Linked DNA regions of Homo sapiens: regions 1, 2, 4 and 5 are each linked to region 3. The links come from fine-mapping of genetic effects on plasma protein levels. A gene starts in region 3. Each other region holds a variant in brackets. All regions are shown on one strand. Distances are from middle to middle.

Region 1 (5,106 bases), 720 kb before region 3:
ATCATATGTCAGCAACCTCTTTCCATCTAGAAAGACTGAATGTGGCAAATGTTCTCTTTTATTTTTTTAATCTCTTTTAACTTATTTATTTTTATTTTTCTTATTATACTTTAAATTCTGGGGTACATGTGCAGAATGTGCAGGTTTGTTACATAGATATACATGTGCCATGGTGGTTTGTTGCACCCATCAACCTGTCATCTACATTAGGTATTTCCCCTAATGCTATCCCTCCCCAGCCCCCCATAGCCCAACAGGCCCCAGTGTGTGATACCCCCCCAACCCGTGTCCATGTGTTCTCATTGTTCAACTCCCACTTATGAGTGAGAACATGTGGTGTTTGGTTTTCTGTTCTTGTGTTAGTTTGCTGAGAATGATGGTTTCCACCTTCATCCATGTCTCTGCAAAGGACATGAGCTCATCATTTTTCATGGCTGCATAGTATTCTGTGGTGTATATGTGCCAGATTTTCTTTATCCAGTCTATCATTGATGGGCATTTGGGTTGGTTCCAAGTCTTTGCTATTGTGGTATTTCTAGTTCTAGATTCTTGAGGAATCACCACACTGTCTTCCACAATGGTTGAACTAATTTCCACTCCCACCAACAGTGTAAAAGTGGTCCTATTTCTCCACATGCTCTCTAGTATCTGTTGTTTCTTGACTTTTTAATGATGGCCATTCTAACTGGCATGAAATGGTATCTCATTGTGTTTTTGATTTGCACTTCTCTAATGACCAGTGATGATGAGCTTTTTTTCCTATGCTTGTTGACTGCATAAATGTCTTCTTTTGAGAAGAGTCTTTTCTTATCCTTCACCCACTTTTTGATGGAATTGTTTGTTTTTTCTTGTAAATTTGTTTAAGTTCTTTGTAGATTCTGGATATTAGCCCTTTGTTAGATGGATAGATTGCAAAAATGTTCTCCCATTCTGTTGGTTGCCTGTTCACTCTGATGGTAGTTACTTTCGCTGTGCAGAAGCTCCTTAGTTTAATTAGATCCCATTTGTCAATTTTGGCTTTTGTTGCCATTGCTTTTTGTGTTTTAGTCATGAAGTCTTTGCCCATGCCTATGTCCTGAATGGTATTACCTATGTTTTCTTTTAGGGTTTTTATGGTTTTAGGTCTTACATTTAAGTCTTTAGCCCATCTTGAGTTAATTTTTGTATACAGTGGAAGGAAGGGATCTAGTTTCAGCTTTCTGCATATGGCTAACCAGTTTTCCCAATGCCATTTATTAAGTAGAGAATCCTTTCCCCATTGCTTGTTTTTGTCAGGTTTGTCAAAGATCAGATAGTTGTAGATGTGTGGTGTTATTTCTGAGGCCTCTGTTCTGTTCCATTGGTCTATATATCTGTTTTGGTACTAGTACCATGCTGTTTTGGTTACTGCAGCCATGTAGTATAGTTTAAAGTCAGGTAGTGTGATGCCTCCAGCTTTGTTATTTTTGCTTAAGATTGGCTTGGCTATGCAGGCTCTTTTTTGGTTCTATATGAAATTTAAAGTAGTTTTTTCCAATTCTGTGAAGAAAGTCAGTGGTAGCTTGATGGGGATAGCATTCAATCTATAAATTACTTTGGATATTATGGCCATTTTCACGATATTGATTCTTCCTATCCATGAGCATGGAATGTTTTTCCATTTGTTTGTGTCCTCTCTGATGTCATTGAGCAGTGATTTGTAGTTCTCCTTGAAGAGGTCCTTCACATCCCTTGTAAGTTGGATTCCTAAGTATTTTATTCTCTTTGCAGCAACTGTGAATGGGAGTTCACTCGTGATTTGGCTCTCGGTTTGTCTGTTATTGGTGTATAGGAATGCTTGTGATTTTTGCACATTGATTTTGTATCCCAAGACTTTGCTGAAGTTGCTTATCAGCTTAAGGAGATTTTGGGCTGAGATGATGGGGTTTTCTAAATATACAGTCATGTCATCTGCAAACAGAGACAATTTGACTTCCTCTTTTCCTAATTGAATATCCTTCATTTCTTTCTGTTGCCTGATTGCCCTGGCCAGAACTCCCAATACTATGTTGAATAGGAGTGGTGAGAGAGGGCATCCTTGTCTTATGCCAGTTTTCAAAGGGAATGCTTCCAGTTTTTGCCCATTCAGTATGATATTGGCTGCTGTGGGTTTCTCATAAATAGCTCTGATTGTTTTGAGACATGTTCCATGAATATCTAGTTTATTGAGAGTTTTTAGCGTGAAGGGCTGTTGAATTTTGTCGAAGGTCTTTTCTGCATCTATTGAGATAATCACATGGTTTTTGTCATTGGTTCTGTTTATGTGATGCATTACGTTCATTAATTTGCATATGTTGAACCAGCCTTGCATCCCAGGGATGAAGCCAACTTGATCATGGTGGATAAGCTTTTTGATGTGCTGCTGGATTCGGTTTGCCAGAATTTTACTGAGGATTTTTGCATCAATATTCATTAGGGATTTCGGCCTGAAATTTTCTTTTTTTGTTGTGTCTCTGCCAGGCTTTGGTATCAGGATGATGCTGGCCTCGTAAAATGAGTTAGGGAGATTCTCTCTTTTTCTATTGTTTGGAATAGTTTCAGAAGGAATGGTACCAGCTCCTTTTGTACCTCTGGTAGAATTCAGCTGTGAATCCGTCTGGTCCTGGACTTTTTTTGGTTGGTAGGCTATTAATTACCACCTCAATTTCAGAGTTTGTTATTGGCTTATTCAGGGATTTGACTTCTTCCTGGTTTAGTCTTGGGAGGGTGTATGTGTCCAGGAATTTATCCATTTCTTCTAGATTTTCTGGTTTATTTGCATAGAGGTGTTTATAATATTCTCTGATGGTAGGTTGTATTTCTGTGGGATCAGTGGTGATATCTCCTTTATCATTTTTTATTATGTCTATTTGACTCTTCTCTCTTTTCCTCTTTATTAGTCTGGCTAGTGGTCTATCTATTTTGTTGATCTTTAAAAAAAAACCAGCTCCTGGATTAATTGATTTTTTTTTTTTAATGAGAGATAAATTGTTTAATTTTAGGTTCAGCAGTTGAACAAGCTTTTTGTGGTTTGGTGGCAGTTTTCTGCCTTGGCATTACAAGGTTACCTCTTGCTAACAATCATAGCTTTTGATAGACTTAGATAAATGTGTTCAAACAGCTTTTCTCTGTTTGAAGATGCCTGGCTCT[CT/C]TTTTTTTTTTTTTTTTTTTAAGACATTTCCAAAGCCTACAGTTAGTGTCTCCATCTGGGCAAGAGAAAACATGTGAAAGTCTCATTTATGCTGGAAGATAGGGTAGGGTTGAGAGTGATGGTTACAAGAATTTTAACTTTACATCTACAAGAATGTGGTACAGATTAAGTCCTTGATAATCATGTTGTATATTTAAAAACATCTATAGATGATTTTATGTAGAATGGGAATTTTAACATTTTATTTGTGTTTATTTCTTTTTTTATTTTATTTTATTTTATTTTTATTTTTATTTATTTATTTTTTTATTGATCATTCTTGGGTGTTTCTCGCAGAGGGGGATTTGGCAGGGTCATAGGACAATAATGGAGGGAGGGTCAGCAGATAAACAAGTGAACAAAGGTCTCTGGTTTTCCCAAGCAGAGGACCCTGCTGCCTTCCGCAGTGTTTGTGTCCCTGGGTACTTGAGATTAGGGAGTGGTGATGACTCTTAAGGAGCATGCTGCCTTCAAGCATCTGTTTAACAAAGCACATCTTGCACCACCCTTAATCCATTTAACCATGAGTGGACACAGCACATGTTTCAGAGAGCACAGGGTTGGGGGTAAGGTCACAGATCCACAGGATCCCACGGCAGAAGAATTTTTCTTAGTACAGAACAAAATGAAAAGTCTCCCATGTCTACTTCTTTCTACACAGACACGGCAACCATCCGATTTCTCAATCTTTTCCCCACCTTTCCCCCCTTTCTATTCCACAAAACCGCCATTGTCATCATGGCCCCTTCTCAATGAGCTGTTGGGTACACCTCCCAGACGGGGTGGTGGCTGGGCAGAGGGGCTCCTCACTTCCCAGTAGGGGCGGCCGGGCAGAGGCACCCCTCACCTCCCGGATGGGGCGGCTGGCCGGGCGGGGGGCTGACCTCCTACCTCCCTCCCGGACGGGGCGGCTGGCCGGGCAGAGAAAACCAGTCAGGCGTGGCGGCGCGCACCTGCAATCGCAGGCACTCGGCAGGCTGAGGCAGGAGAATCAGGCAGGGAGGTTGCAGTGAGCCGAGATGGCAGCAGTACAGTCCAGCTTCGGCTCGGCATCAGAGGGAGACCGTGGAAAGAGAGGGAGAGGGAGACCGTGGGGAGAGGGAGACGGAGAGGGAGACGGAGAGGGAGAGGGAGAGGGAGAGGGAGAGCGATTAATTGATTTTTAAGGGTTTTTCATGTCTCTATCTCTTTCAGTTCTGCCCTGATCTTAGTTATCTCTTGTTTTCTGCTAGCTTTTGAATTTGTTTGCTCTTGCTTCTCTAGTTCTTTTAATTGTGATGTTAGGGTGTCGATTTTAGATCTTTCCTGTGTTCTTTTGTAGGCAATTACTGCTATAAATTTTCCTCTACACACTGCTTTAAATATGTCCCAGAGTTTCTGGTACATTATTCTTATTGTTTTCAAACAACATCTTTATCCTTCTTCATTTCATTATTTATCCAGCAGTCATTCAGGAGCAGGTTGTTCAGTTTCCATGTAAGTGTGAGGTTTTGAGTGAGTTTCTTAATTCTGAATTCTAATTTAATTGCGCTGTGGTGTGAGAGACTGTTTGTTATGATTTCCATTCTTCTGCATTTGCTGAGGAGTGTTTTACTTCCAATTATGTGGTCAATTTTAGAATAAGTGCGATGTGGTGCTGAGAAGAATGTATATTCTGTTGATTTGGGGTGGAGAGTTCTATAGATGTCTATTAGGTCTGCTTAGTCTGGAGCTGAGTTCAATTCCTAGATATCCTTGTTAATTTTCTGTCTCATTGACCTGTCTGATATTGACAGTGGGGTATTAAAATCTCCCACTATTATTGTGTGGGAGTCTAAGTCTCCTTGTAGGTGTTTAAGAACTTGCCTTATGAATCTGGGTGCTCCTGTATTGGGTGCATGTATATTTAGGATAGTTAGCTCTTCTTAGCCACTATGTAA
Region 2 (5,106 bases), 430 kb before region 3:
TTAGGGAGGCTGAGGCAGGGGGATCGCTTGAGCCCAAGACATCAAGGCTCCAGTGAGTTATGATTACAGTACTGAAAAAAAAAAAAAAAAAAAAAAGTCCGCAGCAGCAGTTATTTTAATTCAAGCCTAGCCCCAATCTAAGGGCAGACATCCAAGATAATATGACATAACATCCTTGGAGGATATCAATCAATACTAATGAAATAAATAATTACAGTAAGAAAAAGGTCATACTTTTTTGGAAATATATTATTCATCTATTTTATATTAACTTTTAATTTTTTAATTAAATTTTTAATAGAATATTCAGGGAGGGGTTCTTCCAAGGTGCCACTCAAACAAAATCCAAGCAGGTTCATCATAAGACGAAAAAGGTACACTCTCAGATTGGTTTAAACCTCCTAACTTAAAGGACAAGGAAGGATCTGTTTTTGTCTTTTGGAAACCCATGAGCTATCTACTTGTTCTTTACTTCAGCCAATTAGAAGTTCAACTGAAGATAGCTATTGAACATCATCTTAATGATGTTATAAACAGGCAATTTAAATATTTTATTTTGCATAATCCCCAAGCTGGGTTATCACAGAGAAAGCATCTGAGCTTCTCCAGCTCGCCAACCTGCCTGCATTCGTAGCTACTAGCCAGTCCTGTTTTCTTTCCACAAAGAAAACAATGATTTGTTGTTTTCTTCTTTGTCTGAAGAGGGGCTTTCACAGGTGGGAGGTGATGAGTAGTACATTCTCCTGTTTAGAGAAAGGACACCTTGATTAACACAGGCATAAAATCCTAAACATGAAATATTATTAAGCAAAACACAAAACATAGTCCTATCAAAGTAAATATCTATGCCATAAAAATTAATTTGTGCTATTTTTATATCTAAAATTACTTATAAAATCTACAGGTCAAGTTGCAGTGGAACTATTTCTTTTAAGATGTGGTAGGTTTCTACTGATTAGCACTTATATTTTTAGAACTTTTTATACACACCACTTTCCTCATTATTTCTAATGGTAATCAGTTTATATAAAGTACACCAAATTTTGACAGAGAATAAAGAAAAATGTCTGCTTCAAAATCATATTTGATGAAGCCTCTGAGAACATGATTGCAATATAAATATTCTGTTTGTTCACACCAAAAAGAAGTACCAGAATATCATGAAACATGCCTTTTAGTCCTATTACACCACTGACAGTTCATCAAACCATGAGCAAGTCATTTATTCTTTCAAAACTTCAATATGTTTATTTTTAACATAATAGAACATGTATTTTTCTCTCTAGGTTAATAAGCACTTTAAGGTCAACTCAATCCATATATGTAAAAAGCACTCTGAAAGTTTTAAGCATGTTATAATTACATAAAATGTCATATTAATAATAGTAACTAACAGTACACAGCTCAATTTCACAGTACTACTAGTTTTCCAAAAATATTTACTGAATTCTGTATTACTGTATCAACTTGAGTTTTTACCTTAAAAATAAGAGCACATCTGTTATTATATAAGAAAGAATTAAATCAATTTTTTTTTTTTTTGAGACATTTTGCTCTGTCGCCCAGGCTGTAGTGCAGTGGCGCAATCTCGGCTCACTGCAAGCTCTGTGTCTTGGGTTCAAGTGGTTCTTCTGCCTCAGCCTCCCGAGTAGCTGGGACTATGGGCACGCACCACCACGCTCAGCTTTTTTTTTTGTATTTTTAGTAGAGACGGGGTTTCACCATCTTGGTCAGTCTGGTCTGGTCTTGAACTCCTGACCTCATGATCCGCCCATCTCAACCTCCCAAAGTGCTGGGATTACAGGTGTGAGCCACCACGCCAGGCCAAATCAATTTCTTTAATTACTAAGTTAAATGTCTTTTAGAACTGATCAAAATGCCAACAAACCCCAGTCATAAGCAGAGAGGCTCAAAGTTCCTGCCCATAGTTGATAAAGTAACAGTACAAATACACATGTGCTTGGTGTCACACAAAGGCTAAGAAGCAAGAGGCAAAGAAAGAATGCAAGAACAAGTGGAAGGAGTGAGGAAAAACTGGTAGTGTCAATGGTGCTGGGACCTTTTCTCCACTACTGAAAAAGGTTTAGGAGGCCTAAGCTTGGTATTTAGTTGGCAGCTAAAAGTCTGAAATTTCTTAAAGGGTTCAAAAAATTGGATTTACAATTAATTGGTTCTATGTCTTTTTTTTTTTGTCACAACAGAGATTAGGTAATTTGTACACAAGCCCAGCAAAATTAAATCTTCTTTATTACCAGTATAAAATACACTTCCAGATCTTGCCAAAACTAGAAACAAAATTTGAAACAATTGAGAGACTCCTAATGGTGCCTGGGTACCAACTCAGTTAATAAACGTTTTCTTTCTCAAGTGCACTTAGAGATACCAAGAACATCTCACAAAGGTGAGGGAGTAATTCCATTATTTAAAGTATTTTTAAAAAGATATTTACTTGCACTTGCACAAGACACCAAAGAAAGGCATATATTACAAGATGTCCAATGAATGTTAATCTACTCGAAACCATCTTTAAAATTCAGGCTTAGGATATTCTTCCTTAAACAATGGTGGAAGAATCTCTGATG[A/G]TAATTTAATTCACTGTAGTCACATTTTCATTTTTTTTCTTTTCTTAGGGGATGCTTAACTTGATATTCTCCATACTTTTTTTCATTTAAGAACTCTTGTGAGGCTGGGCGCGGTGGCTCACATCTGTAATCCTAGCACTTTGGGAGGCCAAGGTGGGCGAATCAACTGAGGTCAGTTCAAGACCAGTCAGGCCAACATGGTAAAACTCCGTCTCTACTAAAAATACATAAATTAGCTGGGCATGGTAGCACGCGCCTGTAGTCCCAGCTACTCAGGAGGCTGAAGCAGAAGAATCACTTCAACCCGCGAGGAAGAGGTTGCAGTGAGCCGAGATCGTGCCACTGCACTTCAGCCTAATCAGGTAACAGGGCGAGACTCTGTCTAAAAAAAAAGAACTCTTGCGAATGTGTAGAGACAGAGAATACATTAGTGACAGTAATGAGGTAGCACAAAAATATAAGTGCAGTACTCTATGAGAGCAGCCTCCATACATCCTTCTACCAATAGAGAAAACTATTAGCAACTACTGTGTACTAGGAACCATCAATAAACATATTGATTCCCCACTATAAACAGGAAAAATCTAAATTCCTTGGACTGGCATTTAAGGTATTATTATGTCCAATATAATGCCTTTCTAACTATCCAGAGACACTGTAATTTACCATGTCATACCTACCCCGAAGGATGTACCAAGTCCTTCCACATCTGCAATCTCTTCTAAAGTAAACTCTACCTTGTCAACCCAGTAGAATTTGACTTATCCTGTAAGACATCATCAATTATCAACTCCTCTCTGAAGCCTTCTCTCAAATGTGTACTGAACAGATGAATAAAGAAAAAAACCCATAAAATCATATTGATGGTAAGAGTTGCTTTTCACAACAAGATGAAAGGTACTTGAGGTAATTCACTTGCTTGCCATTTCCTAGTCTCATATTTTATCTAACATCTAACAGGATCTACAAAAACTGACCCAACAGAAAGGCAGCAAAAAGTAATAAATCAGTGTTCCAGACGCAAGGCTGGTAGTCGTCTGCCTAAAATCAATGGCTAAATCTATAATAATGAATACAGTTTCCAAGGGAAACCTTATAGTGAAAAGAACAGAGGACCAATGGAGGAATTTAGGAAGTCAATTAAATGAAACTTGCATCAAAATGTATATAGACTCTTCTAGATAATTCAGAATGATAGTTATTACAGTGAGAGAAAAATGGAAGCAAGTTACACAGCTCTACTGCAGCTAGCAGCTGATACTTCAAATCTAAATGAAATCAAACAAAAAAGCATATATCTGGGGACAAGCAGAGGGCTGGTTAAAAAAAAAAAAAAAAGGACAGAAGAAAACTGAGGTTAAGGCCAGGCGCAGTGGCTCACACCTGTAATCCCAGCACTTTGGGAGGCTGAGGTGGGCGGATCCCGACGTCAGGAGATCGAGACCATCCTGGCTAACACAGTGAAACCCCGTTTCTACTAAAAATACAAAAAATTAGCCGGGTGTGGTGGCGGGCACCTGTAGTCCCAGCTGCTCGGGAGGCTGAGGCAGGAGAATGGCGTGAACCTGGGAGGTGGAGCTTGCAGTGAGCCGAGATCGTGCCACCGCACTCCAGCCTGGGAGACAGAGTGAGACTCCACCTCACAAAAAACAAACAAACAAACAAACAAAAACTGAGGTTAAAAAAAGATTAAAACAAAAGTAAAAATTTATAACAATGTGATAGCCTAGAATTTTTTTTAAAAAAAACTATTTCAAGAATGAAGGACACAAAAATCAAATAAGATAAAGATATGGAGGCATCCAATGGATTTGAAATTATGGAGATTGTCAGTGACCACGGCAATAGCAGTTTCAGAAGAGCAGTGAGACGTGAACCAGCACTGAAGACTGAACTAGAGCTGAGTGAGTAGGGATGGGTGCAATGCAAATTTCCAAGAAGATCAGTTGTGCGTTAGGGCAGGACAGAGTTATGTGTCAACGAAAAACAACAACTATAACATTAAAAGTCAATAAATTACAGTAATAAAAACGATGTGATACTGGCATAAAACAGACACATAGACCAATGAGTAGACAGTCCAGAAACAAATCCTCGTATACATGATCAAATGACTTTCAACACGGGTGCCAAGACCATTCAATGAGGAAGGACAGTGTTTCAACAAAAGTTAATAAGAAAATGGGATGTTCACATGCAAAAGAATGAAGTGGAACCCTTACTTTACACTCTATTTTAACTCAAAATGGATCAAAGACCTAAACATAAGACCTAAAACTATAAAACTTCTAGAAGAAAAGATAGGGGAAAAGCTTCATGGTATTGGATTTGGTGGTGATTTCTTGGATATGACACCAAAGGCACAGGTAACAAAAGGAGAAAATAGACAAACTGGATTTCCTAATGTGTCAGGCATCGGATTTCCTAATGTGTCAGGCATTCTGGACTTTCCAGTGATGCCACTGAGATAGCACCTGTCAAAAGAGCAGTGGTTCCATTTCTAGATTGTGGATCTTCAGATAAA
Region 3 (5,106 bases):
CTAGTCTCCCAGGTGAGAACCCAGGAACAATGACCAACCCAGTGCTGCTTTAATGTGCATATAAATTCCTGGGAGTTTTTTTTGTTTTGTTTTGTTTGTCTGTTTGTTTGTTTCTTTTTGGGACGGAATCTCGTTCTATCGCCTAGAGTAGAGTTCAGTGATGCAATCTTGGCTCACTGCAACCTCCGCCTCCCGGGTTCAAGTGATTCTCCTGCCTCAGCCTCCTGAGTAGCTGGGATTACAGGAGTGCACCACCACACCTGGCTAATTTTTGTATTTGTAGTAGAGACGTAGTTTCATCATGTTGGCCAGGCTGGTCTCAAATACCTGACCTCAAATGATCCGCCCGCCTCGGCCTCCCAAAGTGCTGGGATTATGGGCGTGAGCCACCGCGCCCAACCAGACAGCCTGTTAATTAACCTGCAGATTCTGCTTCAGTAGGTCTTTAGACTTACACGGAAGCTCCCAGGTGATGCCCACGCTGCTGGTCTGAGGTCCACCCCTGAGTAGAGAGGCTCTAAAGCTTTTTTCATTCCTGTCTTCTATTCTGCCACCAGCCTTCCTTCCCTTTGTGTCTTCCTTTCCTGCATTTAGTAACCCTGAGCTCCTGATGTGTGCAGGAGATTACACCACGACGCCAGAATGGGCTAGGATTTTCTAGATGGTACAGCGAGCCTTGAGGTGAAGCAGGCTGGCAGTATCCTTAGAAGTTGTGTCTCTTGGCTGGGCGCGGTGGCTCACGCCTGTAATCCCAGCACTTTGGGAGGCCGAGGCGGGTGGATCATGAGGTCAGGAGATCGAGACCATCCTGGCTAACATGGTGAAACCCCGTCTCTACTAAAAATACAAAAAATTAGCTGGGCGTGGTGGCGGGCGCCTGTAGTCCCAGCTACTCAGGAGGCTGAGGCAGGAGAATGGCGTGAACCCGGGAGGTGGAGCTTGCAGTGAGCCGAGATTGCGCCACTGCACTCCAGCCTGGGCGACAGAGAGACTCCGTCTCAGAAAAAAAAAAAAAAAAAAAAAAAAAAAAGTTGTATCTCTTTAGGTAAATTACTGCTCCTGGAAGGGTTATCCCATGATCAAGAGTTGGGGGTCTGGCCAGGCATAATTTCTCACACCTGTAATCCCAGCACTTTGGGAAGCCAAGGTGGGAGGATCACTTGGGCCCAAGAGTTAGAGACCAGCCTGGGCAACATAGTAAAAACTCATCTCTACTACAAATAACAATAATAAAATAAATAAATAAATAAATAAAGAGTTGGGGGTCCTCAGGATCTTAGGCAGGCAGAGGTATTGCCAGCTCTGCAGCTTGCTAAGTTCACTGTGAGGCTGCATAGAGTATAGGCTGGAGGAGCCTGTCTAGTGGAGATGGGGAGGACCTCCCACCCCACTGTTGTTTTACCATCCCCAGTTCTGCCTCCGGACAGTTTCTGAGAGCAAGTTTGTCTTGCCGAGTGGCCCAGAGGAGGCCCGGGGTCCCCTCCTGAGGACCCTCTCCCACCTCCCTTGGCTCCTCCCACTTGGCTGGCTGTTTCTTGCCTCATCTCCCTTGCAGCCCCCAGAGCAGCCCAGTTCAGTCCCCAGCGTTAGTAAAGAATGTTTTAAGAAAGATCAAGTTTAAGACACAAGAAAAGCCTGCATGGGTTTTTATAAATTTTGAAGCAAAATTCTTTCTTGGCCAGGCACAGTGGTTCACACCAGTAATCCCACCACTTTGGGAGGCTGAGGTGGGCAGATTGCATGAGCCCAGGAGTTCAAGACCAGCCTGGGCAGCATAGCAAAATCCTATCTCTAAAACAAATACAAAAATTAGTCGGGCATGGTGGCACTCGCCTGTGGTCCCAGCTACTTGGGAAGCTGAGATGGGAGGATCACCTGAGCCCAGGAAGGTCCAGGCTGCAGTGAATCATGACTGCACCACTGCACTCCAGCCTGGGCAACAGAGTGAGATCCTGTCTCAAAAACAAACAAATAAACCAACAAACACAGCCCCAAACCCAAGATTTTTCCTTAACACATGATACAGTGAAAAGGGCCTAGGGAAATGGTTCCCAAACTTGAGTATTAAAATGACCTGGGCAGCTTTTTAAATTGATGCTCTGTTCTCACTGCAGCCCAATTAAATCAGAGTGTCGGGGTGGAAGATGGGTGTCAGTGTTCTTCAAAATTCCCCCGGAGTTTCCACTGCACAGCCAAGTTTGGGAGCCCCTGGCAGGGAGAGAGGAATGCCTGGGTTCCTATCTCAGCTCATTCACAGGCTTGCGGTGAGACCCCAGTGGCAGCTTCTTCCCCTCCCCAGGCTCAGTTCCCTCATCTCAAAAACGATGCAGTCATGTAGCTCTGAAATTATTTTTAATTTCAAATTACTCACATAGGACCCAAGAATTAGAGACACTTATGAAATCTAATTGAACCCCAGAATTACTGGAAGGAAAAACAACTTAGATCTTAGAGAACAGAACTAGTGCTAAACTCATTACAATTTTCGCAAGCTCTCAGACTCTCATACTCTGCACATTGAATTGCAGGTAATAACATAAGGTTCCTAACTAGGTCACATTTACCATTCAATGCTATGTGGTAGAAGCACACGCATATTAAAATAGGAATACATATTCTCTTTTGCTTTTCTAGCCTTTATATATAAAACCAGTTACCTACCATTGTGATAAGCAGGACTCCTTATAGACAGGTACATCCAGGCAAAGCTGCATCAAACTTTTATACTGGAGAGGGCAACCACGCATTCGACATCATTGGGAATGATAACAAGGTGAGAACACATTGAGTGTTTACAGAGGGTTGACTATCAAAAGGAAAGTATGGTTTCAGATGATTTATGAGTTATTAATCAATCACATCTCCACCCAAGTTATGTGTTTACCTTGTCCCCACCCCGATCTGCATTTGCTGCTGACCTAAAAGAGCAGAGGAGGAGAGAACTTCTCTTTGCTGAGCCTTCGCCCTATGCTGGTGGATTGCTAGCACGTGATGTGTCCTTATTCGATTTTATACACAAAGAAACAGCCTCAGCGATGCCAGTCACAACAGCCAGGTGGTAAAGGTGGGTTTCCTGAAGGCATAAGAATAGCCCACAGGTCAGCCCACCAGGCCCACCGGGCCTGGGTCTGTGGCCCAGATGACCCTGCCCTTAGGGTCTGACATGAGAACAGAAATGGGTCAAGCCATCCTGCAGGGCACAGGAGAGCAAGAACTACATACAGCTCGGGGTTCCCTGACAAGCTGAATTGCTGGACCTTTCTAGAGCCCTTCTTGAATCTGTAGTCTACTCCCTGCTGCATCAAGCAAGCCTTGTTTCTCTTTGTTCCACAGTGGTCTCCTCCCAAACAACCGCACCTGCCCTCATCATGGCTAGGATGGCCTTTGGGGAATGGCAACAAGCAGAACCTCCTAGGGTGCTGGAGGGACTTACTACTTTATCTGTTTGCTCTGCCACCACAACAAAACACTGCAACTGGGTGGCTTTGACTAAAGAAATTTATTTGCTCACAGTTCTGGAGACTAGAAATGTGAGGTCAAGCCATTGGGGAAGGCTTGTTTTCCTCTGAGCCCTCTCTCTTTGGTTTGCAGATGGCCATGCTCTTGCTGCCTCTTACATGGCATGCATCCCTGGCATCTCTCTCTGTGTCCAAATTTCCTCTTCTGATAAGGACACTAGCTGTATTGGATTAGGGTCCACTCTAACTATCTCATTTTACCTAAGCCACCTCTTTAAAGGCCGTGTCTCCATTACAGTCACATTCTGGGATATTGGGGGTTAGGGCTTAAACCAATGAATTTTTAGGGGATGCAATTGAGCTCATAAGACAATTTTATCCCAAAAAGTCCCCTCACTCCTCGCCACAGCTTGCTACAGTTCCTAAAATTTAACCTGAGATCCCTCTGCCCACAGATGAGAGTTCATGCTCCTAACCAGGGGATCCTTGAAGCTCATCTGAGCTGGCCACAGTGGCCCTTTCCAGCACCATCCTCTACCCTCCCTAAAATCAGCCTCACCACCCCTAACACAGCTTGAGGTCACTCTCCTGCTCCTTAGAAGAGCTGTAGTGCTGTCTGGCTGCCTCCTCACTCACCAACGGTGCCACACACTTCTGCCTTTACCTGCATAAGTTAAGTGTTCATCGACTCTAAGTTCCAGGAAATCGGGGCACATTCATCATGCACTGTAGCCCCTTGGATTCTTTTAAAACTCCAAGTTTGAAGAACTTCCCACAGTGTGAAGTGGGAAGTTCTGCCTTACATTGAGAGGAACTAGGATTTGCTGCCCTCACCTGCTTACCTCCAGGGTACAGGCACAAACCTCGGCTCCACAAACACTCTCCTCTCAAAAAGTCCTCTTCAGAGAGGGTCCAAGGACACTGGCATCATGCAGAATCTCCCTAGGAATGATGGTGTGGAGGGTTCTGGCTCTTAGGGCAAGGGTTTCTTGGAGTCCAGTGTGCAGTGTCAGTGCATGGGGGCTGTGACTGTGACTGGTAGCAAGGTGGTCTTGCTGGAGCCAAGCAGCAGTGTGGTTTCAGTGCTCTACCTGAACTTGTGCCAAGAAAGCCTGTGTCTCTGGCCGTTAGTAGAGGCTTGAATTCTCTAACAAATCTCTTTCCACCTCAAATGACCTAGAGTAAATTCTATTGTTTGCAGTTAAGAACTTTGTGACCCAGACAGTGACTGTGACCTATTCCTGTCTGTGTGCCTTCCAGTGACCAGCAGGGTGCCTGGTGCAAAGCAGCTGCCCAGAACAGGATTTCACCTGGGTTATCTCAGGTATTCCCAAGTAGAAAGTATCCTGGCAAGACCAACCCATATCACTGCTGAAATGAGCTCATCTACTGCTCCCCAGGGGTTGAGAAAGGGATGCTCAGAGCAGGTGTGGCCAGCTGCCCACAGGGAGGAAGGCAAATGAAATGAGCAGTGCTCTCCGGGTGTGTGACAGCCAGCTCTGTCCAAACCTGCCTGATCAGTTTTCAGTGTTGATCCTACCTCAACTGTCATCCTTATAGATGGAACCAACTTAATTTCTTTTAATTATTTATTTTTCTTTTTATTTATTTTAATTTTTTTTAAAGACATAGTCTTGCTCTGCTGCTC
Region 4 (5,106 bases), 920 kb before region 3:
TTAGGGCAGGCAATTGCTCACAGCCAGGGCTAGGACAGCAGGTGGCACAGGGGCATGCCCGCCCTTGTGCTGCAATGGAGGCAACATACTGTGCTGTGCCCATTTCCAGGATGCAAAAATGCCACCTACCCTCAGGCCAAAGGGTCCCCAAAGAAACCACATGGAATGAGTCACAGCAAAATGAAGCTGAGTAGCATTGCTTCTAAAAACCTGACATACTGCTATTTTAAAAAAAGGAGGTTTTTGTCTGTTGCCGTAACAAATGAAAATGCCTGGTCAGATGTTCACAATGTCGTATATTTCTACAGCTTTTTAAAATAAAGCATAGAAGGATAGAGGATGGTAGAGGATATTAAAATGAGCTTGTCACTTAGATAACTTAGTATGTTACATTACTACAATTAAGTTACTAGAAAAACCACTAAAAACCTGAGAATAGATGAAAATGAGTGAGATTATTCATTATATATACGGGAGAGGGAAGGACCACTTATGAGAAAATGGTGAAAGTAAACATTTCCTTGCCCCAGCATTTGATGAATATGATACTGAAAAACAAGTGCCCCTCTTTGGCCTGAATGAAGCAAGGGAGAAAAAAAACAAATTAGCAGAAACGTGATGAAATATGACTTGGGGCATCCGTGGTCAAAGTGAAAGCACAGGCTTTTTAATCTCTAGCCATAATAACTGGAGAACATTAGTCCATTCACAGCACAAAGGTGGTGTCTAGACTAATTATAGACATGCCAAGTCTTTCAGCAAATCATAGTTCTCGATGCCATTTTAATGATTTTACATAAAGAAGAATCTTCTCACTCTCGCGTAGGAATAATTAAACTATTCAGCACTTTATATGCAAAAAAGGTCATTTGTAGTTATACTGATTAATTACCTTCAAGTCCTCCTAAGCACTTTATATGCAAAAAAAGGTCATTTGTAGTCATAGTGATTAATTACCTTTGTTTTCTGGCCAAAAACACAAGGTGGATAATGAACTTATTACATATTACCATAAGAGTTTGAAATTCGAAAGTATACTAATGATAACTGGCTTCACAGATTTTACGGAATTTCACCCAAAGCAGCTATTAAAGCAGTGAATTACAGTAGTTCTAGGTTATTTAAAGTTTATGAAACAGTGAAACAAATTCTCATTTAAAAGGTTCTACATGTTCCTCAAGGTAAACATAAAATAGCAAAATATCGAAGCATCTACCCCAAGAAAGGCCAACAAATATTATTAGCTTTATAAATAACAAAGTTCTCCAAATATTATTAGTTTTATAAATAACAAAGGCAATGCTACTTTCAGTTAATAAACAACAAGTATTTACTGAGAACCTGTGCCCCGAAAGCACATGCTCACTCTATGCTATTATGAGCCGCCTCAGGATTCTATAGCCTAAGTTATTTAGTAAACAAAAATGTCCCTGGCTTAACTCACTGCAACACAATGGTCCTACTCTTTCAGCAGCAATGTGAAAATGAATTGCATGAAAATTAGAGAAAAAAGGTATAAGCAAGTAATAAGGTAGATTTTAGTGTATAAAGCCAAACGTGCAAAAATATATGTTCCTGAGCTATAAAAAGGTGTATGCATAACCAAACAAATCTCCTAAAAAACTGACAAGCATAGATTTCTTCTCCTCTGAGCATATAAAAATTAGTTAATTTCTGAATCTTGTGTTAACTTCCAAAGCATCTTCAGGAGGACATATGAACTCTGAATTCTTGCAGGAACACCGCTTCTAAATTGCACTCCAGTTCTGATGCGCTACCCCTCCAGCAAAGCCATACATGAATAAAGAGCTTTAATTGGGGAGCTGGGAGGGAGAAGCAGCGCTGAGAGGAAAGGAAGTGGCATTCAATGGCATTCAGTGGCCTGGGGAGGAAGTGACATCCAGCGAAGGGTAAGAAAAGGAAGGGTAGGAAAAATGCCCAGGAAATTCCAAAACACCGGGAAGAGAGAGAAAGAGAATATGAAAAAAAACTTCAACCCATCAATGGAGAATAACAAGCTCAGTGTTATAAAAGGAGTGATCTAGGCTCTTTTATATGAGTACATGTCTTTATTATGTATAATATATATGAATGTATATCTATATGTAAGCCTCGATTATTAACATTACGAGGTAGACAGTAAGCAAGTCACATTCTATCTTGCACTCTCTTACACGCACACATAAAAAGCATGTTTTGTCATTAGTTTCTGTCTTCTTTTACAATTAAGAATTAATCTAGGCTGGGTGCAGTGGCTCACACTTGTAATCCCAGCACTTTGGGAAGCTGAGATGGGTGGGTTGCTTGAGCCCAGGAGTTTCAGACCAGCCTGGGCAACAGGGCAAAACCCCACCTCTACAAAAAATTAGCTTGGCATGGTGGTGCATGCCTGTAGTCCCAGCTACTCAGGAGCCTAAGGTGGAAAGATCACTTGAACCTGGAGGTTAAGGCTGCAGTGAGCCGAGATTGCACCACTGCACTCCAGCCTGGGCAACAAAGTAAGGCCCTGTCT[CAA/C]AAAAAAAAAAAAAAAAAAAAGGAATTAATCCAGCAAGAGGCCAAAACTGGACTGCTTCTTTTCCTACTGGACCTTATCTTTAGGGTCACTGCATGAGGAGGGCAGGAATGGGAGGGAAAGGAAGAGGCCCAGGGCTGGGAAAATCCACCAAATCCACATGGGAGCTTTGATCTTCCCCTTTGAACTAACACAGCTATGGCTTTTAACCTTAGGAAATGTCCCTGTTCTTCTAATGGAATGAGTAAGGATCCAGAGCCACAGGAACACTTTGTCCATGGCGTTCCTAGATTGACCTGATGGGGCATCTCAAGTGCACAAGTGCACACACACATCACTTGCAGAGACAGCAGGGGACATGGTGGAGCAGCCACTTGGAAGCCATGCAGAAAGCTCTGTCGTTCCCTCGTTCTGGTCACTTAACCACTTTACACCTGTTTCCTCCACGTGATATAGAGTGGGGGTTCAACAAATTTGCTCTTTTCCCTTTCATCTCCTGCTGAAGTTATTACATAGGTGTTGTTCTTGATGGTCCCCAGGCTGTGGGGTACCTTGTATTTCTTTCCACACATTGCTGGTTCAGTTGGATGAAAAGGAGGGCTTCACAGAGAAAGATGAGCATTCATCTCAACTTTCTGAAGGATGAGCAAAATTCAGAGAGAGGGGTAGGAACTTAAGATTTTAGAAAAAAACAGGTAACTAGAACAAAAAATATATAGGCAGGGGAAAAGAAGCTAAAGAAATAGCAAAAAATTAGACAAAAGAGGGTTCAGACTGAAAACAGCAAAATGCAAGGTCCATTAGTTTGTTAACTGGTTATCAATTGTATTCAAGTGGTTTTGGCCTATGAGGCTGACTGACGAAGAAAGCGAAAAATGGAAATGGGAAAGGTATTCCATTTAAAAGTATCTGCATGTGTCCACACCATGTTCCATTCAAGCCTGGGAGCTAAAGATTACAAATTCTTATTTAACCAAATGTAAATTTAAGCAGATAAATAAGGTGGCACTTATCAACAATTTTTAAGAAGCCATTAAGAATGAGTTCTGTGATGCATTAAAAATTATCTAAAGTTTTAAACAAATTTCCAAGAAGCATCTCCTTTAAGAAATAGCATCACTAGGCCAAGGCAGATAGATAGCTTGAGGCCAGGAGTTCAAGACCAGCCTGGCCAACATGGTGAAAGCCGTCTCTACCAAAAACAAAAACTAGCTGGGCATGGTGATGCATGCCTGTAGTCCCAGCTACTAGGGAGGCTGAGGCAGAAGAATCACTTGAACCTGGGAGACGGAGGTTGCAGTGAGCCGAAATCATGCCACTGCATTCCAACCTGGATGACAGAGTGAGACCCTGTCTCAAAAAAAAAAAAAAAAATAGCATCACTATGTCCACACTGCGTACAAACATACTAGTGTTATCTTCACCCAACTCTGGAGTTTCTAAATCTGAGCTACGTAGACCTCTAAAAAATTCATGGATGAACACAATGGGATCCATAAGCCTGCTGAAATTAGAACCATCACGTGCACTTCTCTATGGATCAGGGTTGTAGTTTTCACTCTATTATTTAAAAAAGTCAGTGACTTAAGAAAAGTTAAGAAGGCCAGGCACAGTGGCTCACAGTGGCCTGTAATTCCAATACTTTGGGAGGCCGAAGAAGGAGGATCACTTGAGCCCAGGAGATCGAGTCCAGCCTGGGCAAATTAGCCAGGCGTGGTGGTGCACATCCATCTAGGAGGCTTGCTTGAGCCCAGGAGTTTCAGGTTACAGTGGGCTAGGATCATGCCACTGCACTCCAGCCTGGGTGATAAAGACACTATCTCTAAAAAATAAAAACATAAAAAAAGAGAAGAGATGCTCTAGAAGAATGTATGTACCTAAGTATCGCACTTCTTAGTGTATCTCCTCTAACATCCTGTACATACACTCACATGTACACACACACCAAGTTATTTAGGAGAGAGTGCATCAACTGAAAATCTATGTATAATATTTTGCTATTACATCAATTCTGTTTGATAGACATTCTATCATCAATAGCAAAAGAAATCTTTTTCAGGATCAGCCGTGCACATGGGCTAACTAGGAGTTGGAAAGTGACAGACTTACACTCCCCCATCTTATTTTCTCCACAGCCTGCCACCGTTCTGAAGTTCTCACGATTGGGGTGGTTCCATTTAAAAATATACTGTGGAGGAATTAGCATGTTAGCTAGCTGCCACTTAGCACAGTACAGGACCTCAAGAAAAAGGATTCTGGAACAGGTACATTTTGGTTGGTGGGGCCGAGAACAAAGAGAATGGGGGCAAGGGGGTGGCCACAGTCTACAAGCTGAGAATAGATAAGATGCCATCGGGCGGACACTTCTTCAACTTCACCCGCTGGCCTTGGGTTGCACTGGTTCTGGGTCCCTGGGTCAACAGATCCTCCCATGGGACAATCTCAGGAGCTCACTCACTAAAGACAAAAATAGCAACACATGCCCAATTGCCAGTGATTTCTGCTCCTCTCCCTTCTGCCACCCTCCACCCTATTAAATGAAAAGAACATTCCATGCTCATAGATAGGAAGAATCAATATTATTAAAATGGCCA
Region 5 (5,106 bases), 700 kb before region 3:
ACAAAGATACTCCTCGAGAGGAGCAACTCCAAGACACATAATTGTCAGATTCACCAAAGTTGAAATCAAGGAAAAAATGTTGAGAGCAGCCAGAGAGAAAGGTCAGGTTACCCACAAAGGGAAGCCCATCAGACTAACAGCTCATGTCTTGGCAGAAACTCTACAAGCCAGAAGAGAGTGAGGGCCAATATTCAACATTCTTAAAGAAAAGAATTTTCAACCCAGAATTTCATATCCAACCAAACTAAGCTTCATAAATGAAGGAGACATAAAATCCTTTACAGACAAGCAAATGCTGAGAGATTTTGTCACCACCAGGCCTGCCCTAAAAGAGCTCCTGAAGGAAGCACTAAACATGGAAAGGGGCAACCCATACCAGCCACCACAAAAACATGCCACATTGTAAAGACCATCGATGCTAGGAAGAAACTGCATCAACTAACTAGCAAAATAACCAGCTAACATCATAATGACAGGATCAAATTCACACATAACAATATTAACCTTAAAAGTAAATGGGCTAAATGTTCCAGTTAAAAGACACAGACTGGAAAACTGGATAAAGAGTCAAGACCCATCAGTGTGCTGTATTCAGGAAACCCATCTCACATGCAGAGACACACATAGGTTCAAAATAAAGGGATGGAGGAAGATCTACCAAGCAAATGGAAAACAAAGGCAGGGGTTGCAATCCTAGTCTCTGATAAAACAGACTTTAAACCAACAAAGATCAAAAGAGACAAAGAAGGCCATTACACAATGGTAAAGGGATCAATTCAACAAGAAGAGCTAACTATACTAAACATACATGCACCCAGTACAGGGGCACCCAGATTCATAAAGCAAGTCCTTAGAGATCTACAAAGAGAATTAGACACCCACACAATAATAATGGGAGACTTTAACACCCCACTGTCAACATTAGACAGATCAACGAGACAGAAAGTTAACAAGGATACCCAGGAATTGAACTCAGCTCTGCACCAAGCGGACCTAATAGACATCTACAGAACTCTCCACCCCAAATCAACAGAATATACATTTTTTTTAGCACCACACCACACCTATTCCAAAATTGACCACATAGTTGGAAGTAAAGCTCTCCTCAGCAAATGTAAAAGAACAGAAATTGTAACAAACTATCTCTCAGACCACAGTGCAATCAAACTAGAACTCAGGACTAAGAAACTCACTCAAAACCACTCAACTACATGGAAACTGAACAACCTGCTCCTGAATGACTACTGGGTACATAATGAAATGAAGGCAGAAACAAAGATATTCTTTGAAACCAATGAGAACAAACACACAACATACCAGAATCTCTGGGACATATTCAAAGCAATATGTAGAAGGAAATTTATAGCACTAAATGCCCGCATGAGAAAGCAGGAAAGATCTAAAATTGACACCCTAACATCACAATGAAAAGAAATAGAGAAGCAAGAGCAAACACATTCAAAAGCTAGCAGAAGGCAAGAAATAACTAAGATCAGAGCAGAACTGAAGGAAATAGAGACACAAAAAACCCTTCAGAAAATCAATGAATCCAGGAGCTGGTTTTTTGAAAAGATCAACAAAATTGATAGACCGCTAGCAAGACTAATAAAGAAGAAAAGACAGAAGAATCAAATAGATGCAATAAAAAATGATAAAGGGGATATCGCCACTGATCCCACAGAAATATAAACTACCATCAGAGAATATTATAAACACCTCTATGCAAATAAACTAGAAAATCTAGAAGAAATGGAAAAATTCCTCCATACATACACCCTCCCAAGACTAAACCAGGAAGAAGATGAATCTCTGAATAGACCAATAACAGGCTCTGAAATTGAGGCAACAATTAATACCTTACCAACCAAAAACAGTCCAGGACCTGAAGGATTCACAGCCGAATTCTACCAGAGGTACAAGGAGGAGCTGGTACCATTCCTTCTGAAACTATTCCAATCAATAGAAAAAGAGGGAATCCTCCCTACCTCATTTTATGAGGCTAGCATCATCCTGAGACCAAAGCCTGGCAGAGACACAACAAAAAAAACAATTTTAGACCAATATCCCTGATGAACATCGATGCAAAAATCCTCAATAAAATACTGGCAAACCGAATCCAGCAGCACATCAAAAAGCTTATCCACCATGATCAAGTGGGCTTCATCCCTGGGATGCAAGGGCTGGTTCAACGTACACAAATCAATAAATGTAACCCAGTATACAAACAGAACCAATGACAAAAACCACATGATTATTTCAATAGATGCAGAAAAGGCCTTTGACAAAATTCAGCAACGCTTCATGCTAAAAACTCTCAATAAATTAGGTATTGATGAGATGTATCTCAAAATAATAAGAGCTATCTATGACAAACCCACAGCCAATATCATACATCATGGGCAAAAACTGGAAGCATTCCCTTTGAAAACTGGCACAAGACAGGGATGCCCTCTCTCACCACTCCTATTCAACATAGTGTTGGAAGTTCTAGCCAGGGCAATCAGGCAAGAGAAGGAAATAAAGGGCATTCGATTAGGAAAAGAGGAAGTCAAATTGTCCCTGTCTGCAGATGACATGATTGTATACCTAGAAAACCCCATCGTCTCAGCCCAAAATCTCCTTAAGCTGATAGGCAACTTCAGCAGAGTCTCAGTATACAAAATCAATGTGTAAAAATCACAAGCATTCTTATACACCAATAACAGACAAACAGAGAGCCAAATCATGAGTGAACTCCCATTCACAATTGCTTCAAAGAGAATAAAATACCTAGGAATCCAACTTACAAGGGATGTGAAGGACCTCTTCAAGGAGAAATATAAACCACTGCTCAAGGAAATAAAAGAGGATACAAACAAATGGAAGAACATTCCATGCTCATGGGTAGGAAGAATCAATATCGTGAAAATAGCCATACTGCCCAAGGTAATTTATAGAGTCATTGCCATCCCCATCAAGCTACCAATGACCTTCTTCTCAGAATTGGAAAAAAACTACTTTAAACTACATATGGCTCTCCCTCTCCCTCTCCCTCTCCCTCTCCCTCTCCCTCTCCCTCTCCTTCTCCCTCTCCCTTTCTTTGTTTCTTCAGTCTCCCTCTGTTGCCGAGGCTGGACTGTACTGCCATGGTCTCGGCTCGCTGCAGCCTCCCTGCCCTGGGCTCCCATGGTTCCCCTGCCTCGGCCTGCCG[A/G]GTGCCTGGGATTGTGGGTGCGCGCTGCCATGCCTTACTGGTTTTTGTATTTTTGGAGGAGACGGGGTTTCACCATGTTGACCGGGCTGGTCTCCGGCTCCTGACCTCGAGTGGTCTGCCCGCCTCGGCCTCCCAGGGTGCTGGGATTGCAGACGGAGTCTCACTCACTCAATGCTCAGTGTTGCCCAGGCTGGAGTGCAGTGGCGTGATCTCGGCTCACCACAACCTCCACCTTCCAGCCGCCTGCCTTGGCCTCCCAAAGTGCTAAGATTACAGCCTCTGCCCGGCCGCCACCCCGTCTGGGAAGTGAGGAGCATCTCTTCCTGGCCGCCCATTGTCTGGGATGTGAGGAGGGCTTCTGCCCGGCTGCCCCATCTGGGATATGAGGAGCGACTATGCCTGGCCACCCCATCTGGGAAGTGAGGAGCGCCTCTGCCCAGTCGCCCCATCTGGGAGGTGAGGAGCACCTCTGCCCAGCCGCCACCCCATCTGGGAGGTGAGGAGCACCTCTGCCCGGCCACCACCCCATCTGGGAGGTGAGGAGCACCTCTAACTGGCCACCTCCCCGTCTGGGATGTGAGGAGTGCCTCTGCCCAGCCGCCGGGTCTGGGAAGTGAGGAGTGCCTCTGCCTGGCCACCCCATCTGGGAAGCGAGGAGCGCCTCTGCCCAGCTGCCACCCCATCTGGGAAGTGAGGAGCGTCTCTGCCTGGCCGCCCATCGTCTGGGATGTGAGGAGCACCTATGCCTGGCCGCCCCATCTGGGAAGTGAGGAGCGCCTCTGCCCGGCTGCTCTGTCTGGGAGGTGAGGAGCGCCTCTGCCCGGCTGCCACCCCATCTGGGAGGTGAGGAGAGCCTCTGCCCAGCTGCCACCCAATCTGGGAGGTGACAAGTGCCTCTGCCTGGCCACCATCCCATCTGGGAGGTGAGGGGCCTATCTGCCCAGCCACCCTTCGTCTGGGAGGTGGGGAGCACCTCTGCCCGGCCGCCCTTCATCTGGGAGGTGGGAAGCGCCTCTGCCCGGCCACCCCATCTGGGAAGTGGGCGCCTCTGCCTGGCCATCCCATCTGGGAGGTGAGGAGTGCCTCTGCCCGGCCACCCCGTCTGGGAAGTGAGGAGCATGTCTACCCAGCCACCCCGTCTGGGAGGTGAGGAGTGCTTCTGCCTGGCCGCCCCATCTGGGAAGTGAGGAGCGCCTCTATCTGGCCACCCCTTCTGGGAAATGAGGAGTGCCTCTGCCCAGCTGCCCCGTCTGGGAGGTGAGGAGCGCCTCTGCCCAGCCGCCACCCCATCTGGGAGGTGAGGAGCGCCTCTAACCGGCCACCTCCCCGTCTGGGATGTGAGGAGCACCTCTGCCCGGCCGCCAGGTCTGGGAAGCGAGGAGTGCCTCTGCCTGGCCACCCCGTCTGGGAAGCGAGGAGTGCCTCTGCCCGGCTGCCACCCCGTCTGGGAAGTGAGGAGTGTCTCTGCCTGGCCGCCCATCATCTGGGATGTGAGGAGCACCTATGCCTGGCCGCCCCATCTGGGAAGTGAGGAGCGCCTCTGCCCGGCCGCTCTGTCTGGGAGGTGAGGAGTGCCTCTGCCCGGCCGCCCTGTCTGGGAGGTGAGGAGCACCTCTGCCCGGCTGCCACCCCATCTGGGAGGTGAGGAGAGCCACTGCCCAGCTGCCACCAAATCTGAGAGGTGACAAGCACCTCTGCCTGGCCACCACCCCATCTGGGAGGTGAGGAGCACCTCTGCCCGGCTGCCCCATCTGGGAGGTGAGGGGCCTATCTGCCCAGCCACCCTTCGTCTGGGAGGTGGGGAGCGCCTCTGCCCGGCCGCCCTTCATCTGGGAGGTGGGAAGCGCCTCTGCCCGGCCACCCCATCTGGGAAGTGGGCGCCTCTGCCTGGCCATCCCATCTGGGAGGTGAGGAGT

The links. PIP is the chance, under the fine-mapping model, that this variant and not a neighbour inherited with it causes the effect. Sun 2018 read protein levels with aptamers (SomaScan).
Region 1: its variant is fine-mapped to the plasma level of the MSMB protein (Sun 2018, PIP 0.95).
Region 2: its variant is fine-mapped to the plasma level of the MSMB protein (Sun 2018, PIP 0.95).
Region 4: its variant is fine-mapped to the plasma level of the MSMB protein (Sun 2018, PIP 0.95).
Region 5: its variant is fine-mapped to the plasma level of the MSMB protein (Sun 2018, PIP 0.95).

What each region holds. Positions count from the first base shown.
Region 1 is chr10:45,326,644-45,331,749 of GRCh38, forward strand. No RefSeq gene overlaps it. Among named protein-coding and RNA genes, the nearest start is that of OR13A1, 14 kb to the left of the region's middle. The variant CT/C (reference allele first, on the strand shown) is at 3,148.
Region 2 is chr10:45,617,518-45,622,623 of GRCh38, forward strand. It overlaps ZFAND4 (zinc finger AN1-type containing 4), which reads right to left. Exons shown (of 10, transcript NM_174890.4): 9 at 623-743. Among named protein-coding and RNA genes, the nearest start is that of ZFAND4, 53 kb to the right of the region's middle. The variant A/G (reference allele first, on the strand shown) is at 2,583.
Region 3 is chr10:46,043,574-46,048,679 of GRCh38, forward strand. It overlaps MSMB (microseminoprotein beta), which reads right to left and starts at 2,696. Exons shown (of 4, transcript NM_002443.4): 1 at 2,662-2,696. The coding sequence starts at 2,664. RefSeq lists an enhancer at 645-1,146.
Region 4 is chr10:45,121,700-45,126,805 of GRCh38, forward strand. It overlaps the pseudogene RSU1P2. Among named protein-coding and RNA genes, the nearest start is that of MIR3156-1, 40 kb to the right of the region's middle. The variant CAA/C (reference allele first, on the strand shown) is at 2,513.
Region 5 is chr10:45,343,117-45,348,222 of GRCh38, forward strand. No RefSeq gene overlaps it. Among named protein-coding and RNA genes, the nearest start is that of ALOX5, 29 kb to the right of the region's middle. RefSeq lists a silencer at 690-891. The variant A/G (reference allele first, on the strand shown) is at 3,191.